Regions from separate parts of the Homo sapiens genome. Here region 2 is linked to region 1. Evidence: fine-mapped expression QTL. A gene starts in region 1. The other region holds a variant in brackets. All regions are shown on one strand. Distances are from middle to middle.

The links.
Region 2: its variant is fine-mapped to the expression of CARMIL1 in monocytes after Pam3CSK4 (Quach 2016, PIP 0.95).

What each region holds. Positions count from the first base shown.
Region 1 is chr6:25,273,101-25,282,923 of GRCh38, reverse strand. CARMIL1 (capping protein regulator and myosin 1 linker 1) reads right to left here and starts at 3,550. Exons shown (of 37, transcript NM_017640.6): 1 at 3,089-3,550. The coding sequence starts at 3,128. It also overlaps the pseudogene HNRNPA3P17. RefSeq lists a silencer at 3,353-3,822.
Region 2 is chr6:25,326,252-25,334,251 of GRCh38, reverse strand. The region is part of intron 2 of CARMIL1 (capping protein regulator and myosin 1 linker 1); the gene reads right to left. LOC124901281 (a long non-coding RNA gene) reads left to right here. Exons shown (of 3, transcript XR_007059512.1): 3 at 5,515-6,546. Among named protein-coding and RNA genes, the nearest start is that of CARMIL1, 51 kb to the right of the region's middle. The variant T/C (reference allele first, on the strand shown) is at 3,243.

The DNA.
Region 1 (9,823 bases):
CTCTACTAGGTGCTAGATAGAGATGGTCTTTGCATTTCACAGGAGTTTGCAATCTAGTGGAGGTCACTGAGAGATGTCATAAAAGAAATTCACACACAATGCATAAGATCATGGATTCGGAAGCACGCAAAGGTTTCAGGGAGGAGAGGATCCCTGAGCTGAATCTTGAAGGCATAGGAAATAAGATCACTGGTTTCCAAAGTAGAGTGTACAATATAATCCATTGAGATGAAAGAAGAAAATAGAATTTTCATTTCTACTTACAATGTGTGTTTCAGTTTGTGTTTTAGATTATACACACTAAATGGAGCATGTAGTTTAACAAATATATGTTTAATAAGGGGTAATCAAAATTTTCTTCTTGGAAATACCGCCATGAAAGTTTAGAGCTGCTGAGATAAAGAGTGAAAACGGGGAGAAAAAGACAGTGTACGCATAAAGAACAGCATGGAAATCTGAGAAAGCACAGCCTGTTCAAGGAACAGCAAGGAGGTGGAATGTTTGGGGCAAGGGAACATGTAGAAGAGCTCACTGCACTATGAGTTCTTCACAAAGCTCCTATCTTATCAGAACTCGAGAAACAAGCACAGGCCACTCCTCCCTCCCCTAAAAAAGAATTGCGGGAAATGGGCATCTGAAATTGACTTAAGAACATATACACATGGAAACAGACTGGAAAATCATATACCCTTTAAAATAACTACCTCTAAGTGGTAACAGGAGTGACATATAGTCTTCTTATTCTTCTCTACATTTAAATTGTTTCTACATAAAGTCTATAACACTTTTTTTTTTTTTTTTTTTTTTTGAGATGGAGTTTCACTCTTATTGCCCAGGCTGGAATGAAATGGCTTGATCTCGGCTTACGGCAACCTCCGCCTCCCGGGTTCAAGTGATTCTCCTGCCTCAGCCTCCCGAGTAGCTGGGATTACAGCCACGTGCCCCCACGCCCAGCTAATTTTTGTATTTTTAGTAGAGACCGGGTTTCTTCATGTTGGTCAGGCTGGTCTCCAACTCCCGACCTCAGGTGATCCACCTGCCTCGGCCTCCCAAAGTGCTAGGATTACAGGGGTGAGCCACCACGCTCAGCCAAGTCTGTAACACTTTTTAAATATCTTGAGGGAATCTTAAGGGAATATATAGAGGTTTTCATGTGGTCGGTCGCCATTTTGAATTGATCAGAGCAGAACTCTTGTGAGCACTTGAATTTAGAGGAAAGCAGGTGCAGGTATTTATTCTATCCCAGCCTAACTTGACCACTGAAAGGCCCAGAAAAATCATATCGGGCATAATATGTCACTCTCTTGAAAGAGATAGGCAATACTTAATAAAAACAAAAATTCCATTTCAAGATAAAGGTCAAACTCAACTTTTAAAATATACAAACTATTCCTTTTGAGAACCATGAATAGAAACCCAGACACCTTATTTCCACTCTACCCTTCACTCTTTCTCTTGGGCCTAAGTAATTACCTACACTTTCCATTTCCAGACTTAAGGACAACTCCTTATATAAAGTAAAAATCTGCCACCCACTTTAGCCATCCTTATCCCCTGACCAGCCAGGCAAGCCCTGCCCTACACTCATTCTCAGGACCTCTGGAGGCGTCTTCAGAGCCTCTGGCGTTTGCTTGGGGTGTTGGAAAGGTCGCAGCCTCCCAGAACCGGATGTGTCACTCACTCCAGCAAAAGATGCAGACTCCACAGGGTTGGGGAGAGAGAAGAGGATCTGCTGGGATCATGATGAGAGGTGCGTGTGTGTGTGTGTGTGTGTGTGTGTGTGTGTGCGCGCGCGCACACGCGCGTGCGTCTGTGAATAATTTCATACTGTAAATTCTGGTAAAAGATCAGGTTTGTCTGTAATTCAGCAGAAGTAGGGGCTTCCATACAAACCTAGCAACAGCCTCTCTACATCAAGTTTTACCTGCTGAGTTAACAGTCACCAACGGAAGGGCATACACAAATTCCTCCAAAGTATTATTAGCTAAAAGAAACAACAGAGGGGCAAATTCCACACATGGAGATCAACGGGTGCTCAGAACTTCCTCTTGTTGTCAGCGCCGATTAAACATCATCTTTGTGAGCTGTAGGCTGTGTAGTGTGCCAAGAATGGTACAGGAGGGAATATAGGTCACTAGGGCTCAAAACACATCTGTACACAGACGCACATACCTTGTTACAGTATAACATGCTACACACATATACATGCTTAAACGCTAGGTTTTCAGAACACTCTCCCATCCTATTTCAGCTCTGCCATTTTAACCCTCCAGATAATTAAGTTAAACCCCAAGACTTAACCAGCCCCGCCCCCACCACCACCAAAAAAAAAAAAACCTCAAGGTACTCAAACAATGGGTCACCTTGCACAGCGTAACACACACGGGTTCCCTAAGAGATCCCCTATAGGGAGAATCGGTAGGTTAATCATTATTAAAATAAGGCTTTTATCATTAACCCTCTATTTCCTGGCCTGAGTCTGCGTCAGCCCTGTAACCCTTTCGCTCCCAGCTGGCTACACCAAGCCACACCTTGCCAAGCCCAGTCATTTTACCAGACTAGCGCCCACTCCCCCAAGTCTGCGTGTCAGAAGATCACCTCCCGCGGGGCATTTTCAGGAAAGCGCCTGACACGTGCCGGAGACGACCTACTGTGCGCTCGCCACCTGTCCTTCCAATAGGCTTTCCCGGACTTTCCCGAGTTTGGGGCAGTGGGCTGGGAGCTGTAAAGGGCTCCCCTCGCTTGCAGAACTCCCAAGTCTAAGATGGCCCGCCCCCTTCTTTCGCCAACCTGGATCCCCGCTTCCGGGCAAGAGGAGGTGCCCAGGGCTCACAGTCGAGACCCTCCTCCCACCCACCTCCCGAGGACTCCCGATTCCTCCCCGAAGCCTTCCCTCTCTGCACTTGGCTCTACAGGCGGTCGGATGGGAACAAACTTCCCGGCACCCCCAGTGACCCTGCCCAACACCACTCTGCCCTAAGGGGCGCCAAGACTTCTCGAGACCTGCGGGAAAGCAGAGGTGGGAAGGGAGAGAGAGGTGAGGAGTACGCAGAGGAAGGTGGAAAACCAACAACCGCGTGAATCTTACCTATCAACTCCCTGGGAACGTCAGAGCTCTCCTCGGTCATGGTTGCCCTGTAGGTGTGGGGGTTATTGCAGGTCCAACTCTGATTTATGGCCCCCTGCCCTTCCCCGAACTCCTCAATTTTTTTAGAGAGGCAGATGCAGCTTGCAAATGGAAGTGGGCAAGAAAAGGGGGGGCGGAGACAGAATTTTGCCGCGCGCCCCCCGCCCCACCAAAAAAAAAAAAAAGAGTTGCAAATGCGAGGCGGATTTGCTGCTGCTGCTACATGACGCCTCCTCGCAGTTCCCGGCGGCTGAATAAGGAGCGGACCGGATTACAAGCGGGCGCGGGGCGCGGGGCGGCTGTGGCGCCTGCTCCTCCTCCCGGCTCGCTGGTCCCCGGCGGGGCTTGGGCCGGCGTAGCTCCCGCCCAGCCTCCGCGCCGCACCTACAGCCCTAGGTGAAAGCGGAAGGCGTGGGAGAGGGCGGGGAGAGCGGCGCGGGGCGGGGGGAGTAGGTTTTCCTCGCGCTCCTGCCGGGCTCCGGCTGGGCGGGGGCAGCTCCGGCCCTCCTCCTTCTCCTCCTTCTCCTTCTCCTCTTCCTCCTGCGTTTCCTCCTCACCTCGCGAGAGCCGGCCTCCGCACCGGTGCGAGGCCGGCCTCCGGTGCCCGAGCGCTGGGTCCCCGGCGTAGGTCGCACCCCCAGGAGAGACGCTGTGCGGTGCTGCGGTGGCGGCGGCGGGCACCGCGCCCCTCCTCGCAGCCTCCCTCCCAAACCGCAAAAGCCCTGCGTCTGGAGAGGGGGCGAGCGGGCTCGCGAGAGAGCCCGGGAGCCATCTGCTGGCTGCGAGGGAGGAGAGCCGGGTGAGCCGGGCTTTCCATTTCCTTGTCCCCACTCCGGGCGGGCCAGGGGACCCAGAAGACGGGAGACGGCAGATTCTGCAGACCCGTCTACACGGAAGCTGGTTCTTTTTGGGACCCTCTTACGCACTTTTTCTTTTTCAACCCTCCCGGTGACATGTCACTTCATCATCGCTATTCTTCATTTCTGATGAGCTAGACGAAACCTGTGAACACTAATCATACCGTGAGAAGACACTTGTGTGTGTGCGTTCAGCTGGTGCTCTGCAGCCGCAGTTCGCTATCTCAGACATTCCCGTTGAGAGCGCCTTGGAAAATGCCTTTCACTCGGAAAAGTCTCTTTTATCCTCGGGGCATATTCAGGAAGCTGAGCTTTAATCACTGGAGCCTATGTAAGCCTGCGGATAGGTCTGATCCTACCTGGGCCCAAACTCCCTATGACTTCCCTGAGCTCCATCCCCAGAGGTTCAACTTCAGGGCCAAGAATACTTTGTGCCTCAATCGCTGCTTTTTAGCCTAGGGCTGGGAATGTCCCAGACTGTCTAATCAGGTTCTGCTTTTAAAGGACAGAAAAGGAGGAAAGGAAAGGGAATCCATGCACTTGGCAATCTAATTTTAAACACTGCTGTTGACCTTGGACCCCTTAGAATCATCTTCAGCCCCACAGCCAGGCCTTACCACTAAGGATTTGCCAACCTGGCCCCTTCCCACCCTCCTTAACCTCTCCCACTCCCTTCTCTATTACAACCAGACTCACTGTTTGCTTCCTCCTTCCTCTTAAGGTTATCTGATTCTTATCTATGTTTTCAAACCCATCCCAATGGTCTACCTTCTTTGTGAATATTTTCCAGGGATTTTCAGATTACTGTGATCCCTAAGCCTCTACAATATGTATTGCCTGAAACACTTTTCTAAACCCAACCATATGGTGTCGTGTTTCATTGCTTGTGTATTTGTCTGGTTTTACTATCTAACTCTTGCATTGTCCCCTGAGTTTGGATTTTTTCTGCCCAACTAGACTGTAGGTGAGTTGAAAGTGGGAATTTATCTTAGACTTTTGAACTTCTTCAACAGCCTAGTTCAAAATAGGTGTTCAATAAACATTTGTTAACTGATTTTAGAGCTTTGGACCTCAGGCCTCCAACCATTTGTTTCAAAAGTGGGCAATTTCTTTAAGCTAGACATTTCCTTAATGCATTAAATATATTTTTTCTGCAGTAAATGGAAATTAACATCTCAAACTGTCTTTCATTCAACCTGGTGTGTTAAAGAGGACTTTTCTGGCACATACCAATGAAGTTTCAGAAATGCCCTGAAGTTTCCAAACCATGTGATAACTTGTGAAAATAAGAACAAAAGTTTGTCTTTTTTTTTTTTTTCCTGTGGCCTGGGTGATGGAAAGAATAAAGGGAAGGCTGTATGGCAGTTCTGTAATTCAGTACTCTTTGGCTTCTTTTAAAGGAAGCTGGGGTTTCAATAAAAGAATCATTTTCACTGCAACAGGATCCTGATTGGCTCCTGCATCTCTGAAGAAGTGAATTCAAATGAATCTCCTATCACAACACTGAAAAATGACTGACTGATTTTGGAAATCAAAGTCATTTACTTCTCGGTTGCAAAACTCAAATATGTTTCAGAATAGCAAGCAGAGAACTCCAAGGAGCACTGTTTATAAAGCTGCAAACCCAACAAGCAGTAAACATCCCTAGCACCGTAAAACCATGGTGCCAGCTTGGAGAATGCAGTTTGCATTCTGAAATGTGTGCTTGTTTACTGAATCGGCCTGCCCCTTCTACTGCTACTGCTGCAAAAACAAACTTTTCTCACTCCATCACTCCAACTTCCTCAAATTCATCCCTGTTTATATAGTCTTGAATACACGAGTGATCAAACCACTACATGAAACTGATTGTGTTACATATGTGATTAGCCATAGCTTCATCTAAGTAAGTATTTACATGTGGCTGTGTTTAAGCCATACAACTAGTACTGATAATCTGAAAGCTGTTAGTAAGATAAAACTTTTTCAGAGAATCCCTACTGCATTTGAATCTGTAAAATGTTTAACATTTAACATATAGTGAGTGGCAACATTATTTTGAAAAGGAAGATGGAGAAGAGTGTAATTTGAAAAGCATGGCAAGGCCAGGTGCAGTGGCTCACATTTGTAATTCCAAATGCTTTGGGATGCCGAAGTGGGTGGATTGCTTGAGCCCAGGAGTTTGGGACAGACCAGACTGAGCAACATAGTGAAACCCCATCTCTTTTGAAACATACAGTGAGTGGCAACATTATTTTGAAAACTTATCCATGGATTTTTATTTTTAATTCTAAGCATATATTCACATCTATATAGTACATTTTGTAATGCATTATGGTCAGAAAACACTCTGAGTAAAAAAGTTTGCAGAAAATAGTGTCCCTAAAATGACACAACATGCTATCATTAGAACCATATCATGTAATGATTAAACCCATGGAGATAAAGCAAACAAAAAAGTTAAGAAGAAATCAGCACTCTAACAAAAAAAAAAATCACAAACTTACGTAGGTCAGTTTCTGATCTCGTCTACTGCATTAAGAACTGGTTTTAAAATGGAAAGGTATTCAGAAATGTGGGAACCACCAGCATTTTACTCCCCAAGTAATGATTTTAAGATTACCTTCCACCCCCAGTAACCATTGGGGAAGGGGCCTTCTTAAGAAGGTGTATTTTTCAACTTGGTTAATAAAGATCTTTCAGGAGGGTAGGCAATGTGAACTAAGCTTGCAAACACCTCTAAGAAAACTTAGTTTATCTCTGACTAGAAGACGGTGGAAGGTAAATGGCTATTAAACAATACTCCTTTAAAGTATTTACAAATGAAATTATATGAGACCTGAGATTTGCTTGAAAATAGCCCATAGGGATGGTGGGGGGTGGAGAGTATTGAGTAGAGATATAGATGAAATCAGAGTGACCTTGTGTTGATTTTTGTTGCAGCTGGATATCAGATCCATGGGAAGGCATTGCTTTCACTTTTGTATGTGTTTGCAATGTTTCATAACAATAATAAAACAGAACGAATCCTTAACACATGACTGAACAAAAAAGAGGAAAATCAACTCAGTCATTAATTCAGAACACATCTGTTTGAATGTGACATAATTAGAGCTCCCAGTTTTACAATGGTTTTCCAACTTCAGAACACTTGAACACTTCAATAGATAACGTGTTGTCTTGATTCAAAGAAACATTTTCTTATGTTAAAGTTACTGAAATCTGAATGTTTTATAATTGATATAGATGGTTAAAATCATGCTCTTCACACCCCATTCCCAACACAAATGCAAAATATATTATGAAATCCATGATTCATCTGACAATAAGTGACCTATGACAAGTGAGGAAATAAGGGTTTGACATATCTGAGCTACCCAGTGACTCCTTGGGTAAAAAGTATAATTACTATATCTTTATCACAATGAGGAAATAAGTTCACATTTGTGGAGTGACTTGCCCAGAGTCACAGCCTTAAGGGTCAAAGATTGAACTCAGAATTTGAGATTTCCAGGTAAATGTTCATTTTACTATAGTTGTTGTTGTTGTTGTTGTTTTGAGACAGGGTCTTGCTTGGTCACCCAGGCTGGAGTGCAGTGGCGCGCGATCTTGGCTCACTCCAACCTCCGCCTCCTGGGTTCAAGTGATTCTCTTGCCTCAGCCTCCCAAGGAGAGTAGCTGGGACTATAGGTGTGTGCCACCACATGGGGCTAATTTTTGTATTTTTAGTAGAGATGGAGTTTCACCATGTTGGCCAGGCTGGTCTCAAACTCCTGACCTCAAGTGATCCGCCAGCCTCGGCCTCCCAAAGTGCTGGGATTACAGGTGTGAGCCACGACACCCAACCCATTTTAATATCGTTTTTATGCTACTCTACAGGCTCCTAGGCTAGGTTCCCTGGGAAGCATACAGGTGACCAGGGCTTGGCCCCACTCACCTACAAGGAGCTCCTTCTCTAGGAGGATGATCAAGATGAGCTTCGATTGACCTGCAACTAGCCCAGTGCCAGCCACATAGTAGGTGAGGGAACATTCCTTCAGAAGGCTCAACTGAGCCAAGCCCTTTTATAAAATAATAAATACAAAATGTGCTAGATGTCAAAATGCGTTCAGTAAGTGCTATAGAAATTCGTAGGAGGGGGAGAGAGGAAGCAATAAAATGTGGAAAGGTTCTTATATAAATTGACTCAGCAAATATGAGTTGAGCACTTACTATTTGCCAGAGGTTGTAATGGTAAATTATGTGGCTGCTTCATGCAGCCCTCATGGAGCAGTCTAGAGGAGAAAGAGAGCAAGACCAAGACAAAAAAAAAATGCAACATCTTTTATAACTTAATCTTGGAAATGACATACCATCACTTCTGTTCTATTTTACTGGTCACATGGATCAACCCAGGTCAATGGAGGAAGGTGACACACAAGAATGTGAATACCAAGAGTTGGGAATCATTGAGGACCATCTTAGAGACTGGCTAAAGCAGAGAGAGAGAGAGAGAGAGAGAGAGAGAGAATGGGGCTAATGTAGAGAAAGTAAAGGATCAATGATTAGAGTAGCTGGGAATCAGGAAGGTAAGATACCAAGTTGGGAAGTTAAGTAAAAAATAATTCAAGAAGGGAGAAAGGGTTAACAGTGTCCTGTGCTGCTACAAAGTTAAATTTGATAAGGAATAATAATGCATACTTGAACTTAGTAATAAAGGAGGTATTGTTTTCTGTGGAAAGATATATTTTAGTAAAATGACAGAGAAGATAAAGTACAATGGGTTGAAGCATAATGAAGAGATGGAAAAGATGAAGGGAAAAAGGGAATACATATGACTCTAGAATTTTGAGGGTGACAAAAAGGAGAGAAGTAGCCAAAGGCCTACATAGAAGACTTTCTGTTAACCCTCGAAGATTTAATACTTACATTTATTTCTGCCACTTTCCAATGAGAGGAGAAGAATAAAACAGCATCAAGTCTCTAATGTAGATTATAGACTTTAATAATGTTGTATCAATATTATTACTAGCCCATTACTTGCAACAAATGTACCACACTGATGCAAAACAATGATAGGGGACACCGCTGGGGTAGGAAGCATATGGAAACTCTCTGTGCTTTCTGCTCGATTTTTCTGTAGACCTAAAACTATTCTTAAAAAAGAAGACTGCTCTTCCTCTCAGTCCCAAATTGAACTCAATTTGGAAAAGGCGAGTCCGGGCTCAAAATGGAGGCACATGATCCAAAGGAACCAGAGCACTTGAGAAAACTGTTTACTGTGTTCACAGCTTTGAAAATACAGACGATAGTTTGAGAAATGGCACATACTCACAGGCTGTGTGATAATGAGAGACTCCCAAACAACACATTCCAGAGGCTTTGGTTTTGTGACTTACTCTCGTGTTAAAGAGGTGGACACACAAGGCTGACAGGTGTGTACTGGAACCAAAGAGAGCTGTTTCTAGAGAGGATTCTATAAGGCCTGGTGCCCATCTAACCATGAAGAAAATCTTTGTTTGTGATATCAAGGAAGATAGAGAAGAATGTAATTTGAAGAGCATGGCAAGGCCAGGTGCAGTGGCTCACGTTTGTAATTCCAAATGCTTTGGGAGGCCGAAGTGGGTGGATTGCTTGAGCCCAGGAGTTTGGGACAGACCAGACTGGGCAACATAGTGAAACCCCGTCTCTACAAAAAAATGCAAAAATTAGCCGCGCATAGTGGCACGTGCCTGTGGTCCCAGCTACTTGGGAGGCTGAGATGGGAGGATTACTTGAGCCTGGGAGGTAGAGGGTGCAGTGAGCCAAGATTGCACGACTACATTCCAGCCTGGGTGACAGAGAGAGACCCTGTCTCAAAAAAAGAAAAGAAGGAAAGAGA
Region 2 (8,000 bases), 52 kb before region 1:
GTGTCCAGAATCAGGAAGGCCTCTGGCCCCATGGCCTCCCTGACTCTGTTCCGGATACCTCTGCCTCAGGAAACCTTGCAGCTCATAGCGGCTACCTAACAAATTTCTCATCTTTAATACCAGGATCACTACTCAACCCTGAGCTACAACAGCCACCAGGGGTGTGTTGAACTGAGTCTTTGAAGAAAGAATAACCACTTTAAGTGTTGTCCTGCACACACATACACGTGGACTCACAGAACACCAGCAGAGGAGAAAGAATACAGGGAAAGTACATTCTAGGATCATGAAACTTATCATTGGTGTGATGCTGAGAAAATCTCTGAGCCAAAATTCATACCTAAGCATAGATAATATCTGGTACTAACATGTTAAAATACTAGGAGAAGAAAAAAGGCTTTTGTCTCCTTAACAAGCTATAAAACATCAGGAAGTAATGACAGTTATATGGAGCCTACCAGTTTTGCCAGAAATAAAGAACAACTCACCCATCCCCACTATGACTACAAAAAAATGACAACCTGTTATAGCATTTCAAGCAATATTTCAAGCTGGGTTCCAACTGAGAGATATTTATAGATGTCCCATTTAAAAACAAAAAAAAACCCTCCACTGTCAAATAGATTTGGGGAACACTGTTTACTAATCCTCCTCTTAAAGAAGCACAAAACATATTTTTATTTATTTACACAGTGTCTTGCTCTGTCACTCAGGCTGGAGCGCAGTGGCACAATCTTGGCTCACAGGAGCCTCGACCTTCCAGGCTCAAGCGATGCCCCTGCCTCAGCCTCCCAAGTAGCAGGGACTACAGCTGCACTCATCACTGATTTTTCTGTATTTTTTGTATTTTTTGCAGAGAAGGGGTCTTGTGATGTTGCCCAGGCTGGTCTCGAACTCCTGGGGTCAAGCAATCCACCCACCTCAGCCTCCCAAAGTGCTGGGATAACAGACATGAGCCACTATGCCCAGCCGCATATTCATTACAAAGGCTCATCTGAAAAGTTCTGCTGTCAAGAAATTTCTTTCTTTAAATTTATTTGACCAAAGAAGTTTTACTCACTTAACACCTTTAAGCGCTGGCATTCCAAGGGATACAGTGTAGTAAACAGCAGGGAGGGGACTTTCCACATTTCTGTAGAATCTCTGCTTTTCTGGGCAAGGTCATCAATCTGTACTATTCAGATGGACTTCCTCCACGTAGCAGGAATCACATCTGAGTGTAAACCATTTAGTCTCTCCAGCAGAAAAAGAGAGCCTCTCTCTTCAAGGCGGTATTTCCCTAGACCCCAATGAAGGACTCTTGGGTCATATGTCCACCCCCTGGACTAATCACTGTGGCCAGGAGACTATAGCACAAAGGCCAGCAGGCACGGAAGTATCAGGTCTTTTGTGGCTGAAGAAGCTGAAACCATAGTAGAATCACATGGTTGCTGTGGACATGAGAAGTTCCCTAAAAGAAGTGTGTGTGTGTGTGTGCGCGTGTGTGTGTGTGTGTGTGTGTGTGTGTGTATGCATGTTTGCATGGTGGGTGGTGCTATGGAATGGAGACAGAATCTCTACCCTGAGCTCTGGAAAACTAAATGACATCTCCATTTGGATATGTAACAAGTATTACAAATTAACATTTCCCAAATGTTTTCAGCTGTCCTTCCCTTCTTCCTCAACATGTCCCTCAGTTTCAGCAAAAGTCAGTATCACATACCTAATCAAAACCTGGGAATCGTCCTGGATTCTTCTTTTTCCCTCATTCCCCACTTTTGATCATCAGCAAATTCACTTGCTTCTACCTTAAAAATACATTCAGAACTCACCCACTTCTCTACACCTTCACTGCAAACACTCACCCAAGCCACTATTATCTCATACCTGGATGAGCACAATCGAACCACTTCCATTTTTGCCTACCCATCTTATTCACTACAGCTTTCTCAGTGCCCAGCACATGACAACCACTCAAAAAATATTTGTAAACAAACGAGTAAATGGGGAAAAGGCTCCTAGGCTGGAAAGACAAAAACAGCAGATTTCCAGTTCATCACTACTTTTATGACTATTATGACCTATCTTTAGATTTGAGGCTCCTGGCAACAAAAGTCAAAAGGCAAATACACAATAGTCCTAGTGATTCAGGAGGCTGAGGCGAGAGGATCACTTGGAGTCCAGGAGTTCAAGGCCAGCCTGGGCAACAGAGTGAGACCACCTCCCCATCTCTAAAAAAACAAAATTTATGTTTTTAAAAAACCAAACACCCTATTATTTTAATTGATTCTTTAAACGAAGCACACAAGATTTTTAAATGAGAAAAGTTCTTTTTTCCTGGCACTAAATGCTAAAAGCAATTTAGAATATGAACTATTCATTTAACAAGTATTCATAGGTCCTTAAAGAAAGCATTGAATTGCAAAACAGACTTATGATTCCTTTAACAAACAACATGGACCTGAACTTCACAGTTGGCTTCTCATATCAATTTGTAAAAGCCAAAGACAAGCATCAAAAATTAAAGTAAGTGGGCTTCAGGGAGTGTAGAATAATGGGGTCCAGTCACGTAGCTTTCTAGAGATCTAATAGGAAGGACTGAACTTCGGCTCCCTTGGGGGACGGATGCCTCACGGGTCCTGCAAGAGACTCAGATTCTTGCCTTCCCACTCCCATGGATTAGCTCTGGGGAACTGCTGAAGGATTTTAAGTAGGAGAATGATACACTTGGATGTGCAGTTCAGAAAATCACTCTGGCAGCTGTACAGACAATGGATCAGGGTGAGGTCACAGCCTGGGTGGGGCTAATTAAAAGGGTACTGAGGTTTCCTGGAGAACAGCGATGACAGCCTGAACTAAATTTTAATAGAACTTAGTACCCACAAAATCTCTTTAGCCTATCATGGGCTGCAGCATCAGTGGAGCGTCTATCATGGAGGCAGTGCCTCAGGAACAGGCAATCCTTTCCCAGTAAATACTGTGCAGGGCTTTTCACCCCCACCTGCTACTGAGGTCCTGGCATAACACATAACATTTGAGTTGTGCAGCTCCTATATGAAAATAAACAGAAGAAAAGTTGTTTTGACAGCAGGAGGCTGGAAGGAGGCTTAGAGTCAACTAGTCCCAGAGTACAAGCAAGGGAGATACTTCAATCCTCAACTTCCTCAGGGGCAGAAGAATATACTGAGTGCCTCCTCCCAGGAAGTTTGCTGCTTGTTGTTGAAGAATGATTTCCCATAGAAACAATATTATAAGCAAACAAA[T/C]TTCTTCTTTCTACAATTTATCTTGATAAACATGATTCACTTCTGGGAAACTTTTAGCAAAATTACATTACAGTAAGTTCCCTTCTCCTCCCTCCTCCTCAAAAAAAAAAAAAAAAAAAAACCTCTTGAAAATGTAAAGCAGCAAAATAATAAAATTGATCAATCTTCCTCAATCTAAGTCCATAATGGAGCATCTAAAAGCTGGTTCTTCAAAATGGCAAAAGGTCAGCACTTCCAAAAAGTATCTCACCTAATGAGGGGGTAAATCATGGCTTGTGCCACTCCAGATCCCATCCTCATCTGTCTTTTTTTTTTTTTTTTAATAGAGATGGGCGGGGGGGTGCGTCTCACTATGTTGCCCAGGCTGGTCTCGAACTCCTGAGCTCAAGTGATCCTCCTGCCTCAGCCTGAGAAAGTGCTAGGATTACAGGCATGAGCCACCACACCCAGCCCCTCACTGTCTTCTAAACCAAAAATGATTTTCTAACTTGGTTGAAACCTTCCTGGTCTCCCAGCCTCCAGTTCTGCCACACTGTAATCCAGTTACCAAGCTGCAATCAAAATGGAAATCTGATCATCTCTCCCCTTCTTCCCTGGCTCCCCAAAATCTTCATCAAAGCCTTCCATATCTTAGCCCTTCCTGCATCATCTCTGTTCCTTAAATTGAACTTCACACTTTAAATCCCTCTCCCTCTTGTCATCACTACCTGGCCAGCTCATCCGGGCCTTAAGGCTCAACTCAGTCATCACCATGGAGCATCCCTCTAGCCCTGCACTGGGCCAACGCCAGTCTATAATCGCACAGTACCATGGGCACACCTCTTACCACACCGTACTGTTCAAGTCTGCATGTTCTGTCTTATTTATCTTCCTGCCTCTGGTAGCAGCATAAAGCCTGACACATCATGAGCATTCAATGTTTACTGAACTAACTCCAGAATGAAACTCTCTTCTACTTGCCCTCAACTCCCTACCTTCAATTTCCTGACCTACAACAGTGTCCTCAATGTGTTCTTTTAACAATGAATGTCTGACGCTGAATAGGATCAAGTGCTTTGCACAAGTTCATCATTAAACAACTCATATCAGAGACTAATGATAATGAGCTGATGCCCAGACTGGGAACTAAAACTTCGCAAATAACTTCTCATATGCTGAATCCCCTGAACAACTCTGGAGGACAGATATCCCTGTTATCTTTTCATTGTTTTCTTCAACCCTATCTTTCAAAACACACATACAACAAGAGCTGAGATACTTTGAGTATCTTTGAAAAATTTTGTCTGAAGCAAGAAGAAATCTGCATTTAGGTATCACTGATGAGGTAATCAGAATTCTTGTTTGACTTCTCCAAAAGATCCCTGATGCATTCAATTTACATATGTGCTTCCTCTCAGCCATATCCTGGTCTGAATACCAGCAATGTCACTTACTAGACAGACTTTGCTCATGTGCTTTTACAAGATAATACAAACTTCTGAATGTGTCATGTCCTGATCATTTAGGCTAAGGATCAATGAACTCAAATGTATAAGGAGGCCAAAGTAGCTTTGTCAAAGAGCAAAGCCGGCTCTGTGGAAAAAACGACAGCCTTGAGGACAATGACAAATTGCAGTCAACATGGGCATCACGGCCAATGAGAAACACTAGGGTGCTTTCGGGATGGCAGAAAGCTGAAAAGAGCTTGCCACTGCTAAAAGAAAGAGCCTGGTCACAACCCAGCTCTTCCGATTCCTGCTAAGCACAAACATAGACCTAGTGTTCCCAGATCCAACTTTCTTTTTTTTAAAGGTGGGGGAGGATGGAATCTAGATTTATGGCTGATATCTCCCAATTTATAAATATTGGGAACCAACATCAATTTTTTAAATACTGCGTATTTAAAGCACAGTAGAGCAGGCTGCAAGCCACCAGCCTGTGACATCTGGCTTTACGCCTAAGTTGCTCATTATCATTTTAAATGGCCCACTGATTCTTATAAACTTTTGTCTTCTCCAACATGACAGAAAGATCTTTTGTGACTGGAAATACATATGACCCTCCTAAGACTGGCACCCATTGTAGAACCCAAGATTTGATGTCCTGGACTCAGGAATAGATGGATTAAAGCATCCATGTTAATTAACATGAAGTTTTGTCTAGCTCACCAATCCAGGAGATTTTTTTCCCCTCTCATTGCATTTTTTTTAAATTTTTAATTATTATGACTACATAATAGTTATATATATTCCTCATATCTCAATTTAATTACCACAATCACTGTTTTTACAAGGTCCCAGGCAAGAAGAGGTGAGGCAAATGGAGGCTCTGAGGAAAGTGGCTCCAAAGCCTACATGATGGAAGATAACTCTGGAAGAGAAAGAGATGACGTTCCTAAGCTTGTATAGCAAAACTTGAGAGAAGGTAACGAAGATGTGACATCTGAACTCAGAGAAATATAACTTCTATAGAAAAGAAACAAGGCCTTGCAGCTCTATAAGGAACAGTAAATAAATCAAGTATGCACACAAGAAGTAAAAAAATATATCCAAGTAGAAAGGAAGCTTTTCATGAAATGTCCACAGAGCTCATGCTCTGTAGTGACTGTAATGCAAGATTCAAGGCTCTATCTAGAAAACTCCTAGCCAGTCTTGACGGACCAAGCCCTACACTGAGCATGTACAGAGTCTTCCTGTTCCATGCAGTACTTGCTAACAAAACTAATTTAAATGCCTTACCATGACTCGATCTCCTTTAAAGTACCTCATTAGTCCTTGATATCCCTTTGCTGTATCTCTGGCTTGCCTTGCCACTGCTCTGTGAGTCCCCACAACTCCTCCTCCACACATACTCTTCCCCCAAGAGCTTGGCACAGAATAAAGATCCATTTTAGATCTGGATTTAAATAGTTTTCTTTACTAGCTCATTTCCTTATCTACTAATGAGGGAAATACCACCTACGTCAGAGTGGGAATTAAATGAAATAATAAACCTAAAGACCCCAGCTCAATGGTTCAAACATAAATAATGCCAAATATTCATTCCTCTCCCCATGCCCATATCCTCTCACCAAGCCCCAATGTTCTATAGCTTATGACCCAAAACGCTAAAAGTAGAACATTCTAATATTGAGCATATTAACAGAAGCTTGAAGAGATATGCAAGTTATAAATCTGTTTTTGTTCTTCCTCACCAATATAAATTTGCTAAGTGACAGATTAAGACAGTCAATTCCAAGAAGTTGGATTCAATAACATGACATGAGGCACAAAGTAGCCCATATCAATAGCCAGGAATGATTTTATTGCAGCTTGTTATGCTAGTTGCCAGGAATTTTTTTTTAATCTTGAATGTTGCTTTAAATATAGTAATAAAAGAAAATATGACCGGCTGTTGAAGCCCATATGCTACTCCTTTTCAGGACTACAAAATGCTCATTCAGACTTTGTTTGTGCACAGCAAATAGTAGCCGGAGGGGAGCCAGTGAAATCAATGAAAACTTACTGTTTGGAAAACTAGCAAATAGAAAATTGGGGCTGTGTTTCTCTGGTTTCTTCTAATCTAAAACCTGTGATGGAAATCAAGTTGATTCTTGACTTTTTATTTCAATTTCACTGACAGTCCAAATAGAATGCCTAGTGATCTCTATGCTACAAATCTCCGCTTCATCATACAAATTAAGCACAGTTGATCACTCTGTTCCTGAAATATTTCCCCATGAAACCAGTTTCCTGGTTTTCTTCTCTTCTCTCCCTGGCCGTTCTTTCTGTTCTTTTGCTGGCTCTTGCTCCTGTGAATGTCAAGAGTTCCTTCCAGCTTGGTCCTTTGCCCGCTCTTGCACCCTCTCTCCTTGCTATCTCTCTCCTTGGTGATATCACACCTATTTCAATTGCTTTAAATACTCCCTGTACACTGGCAAGTCCCAAATTCCTTTCTGGAAACTGTATCTTTCTGCTGAGCTGTATTTGAAACTACATCTTCCCTCTGGACTGTACGCTCATTTTGCCATCAACAGCCAACATCTTCACTTGGACATTTCATGAACACTCCAAACGCAATGTGTTCAAAAGTTATGTCCTTTTGCTACCCCCACCAGTCTCCCTCATCACAATAAACAAGGTCCTTATCAGGTTGCAGTGAGCCAAGATCATGCCACTGCACTCCAGCCTGGGTGACAGTGGGATTCCGTCTTGAAACATTAATAATAATAATAATATTTCTGATTTCTCCTTTTTCCTCAGCTCCCATATACAAAAGTCCTATCATCCCTACCTTCAAAACATACACCAGAATCCATCTACTGCTTACCATCTCCTCCAGCAATCCCTAGACCAGTGGTTCTCAAACTTTTCTGTATATCAGATCATCCAAAGGACTTGTTAAAGCAGATTGCTGAGTCCCACCTCCAGGTTCTGAATCAGCAAGTCCATAATAAGACTTGAAGTATGCATTTCTTACAGGTTTCCAGGTCATTCTGATAGGGCTGATCCTGAGACCACACATTGAGAAGCACTGCCCTAGACCAAGCCTGACCTCTCACTCCCACTACTGTTAACAGTGTAATGCTCTACTTAGAAGCCTCAGTAATCATTTTAAACATATCAGATTATGTTATTTCCCCAGTAAAATCAAATCCAAGCTCCTTACTGACCAGTATATGTAATCCAGCATGACTTCTTGGATATCCCGATGCTCTTGCCTCATGGTTCTTTAGCTCTCCACTAAAACCACACACTTCCTCAGGGCCTTTGCACAATATATTGAATCTGCCTGGAAACC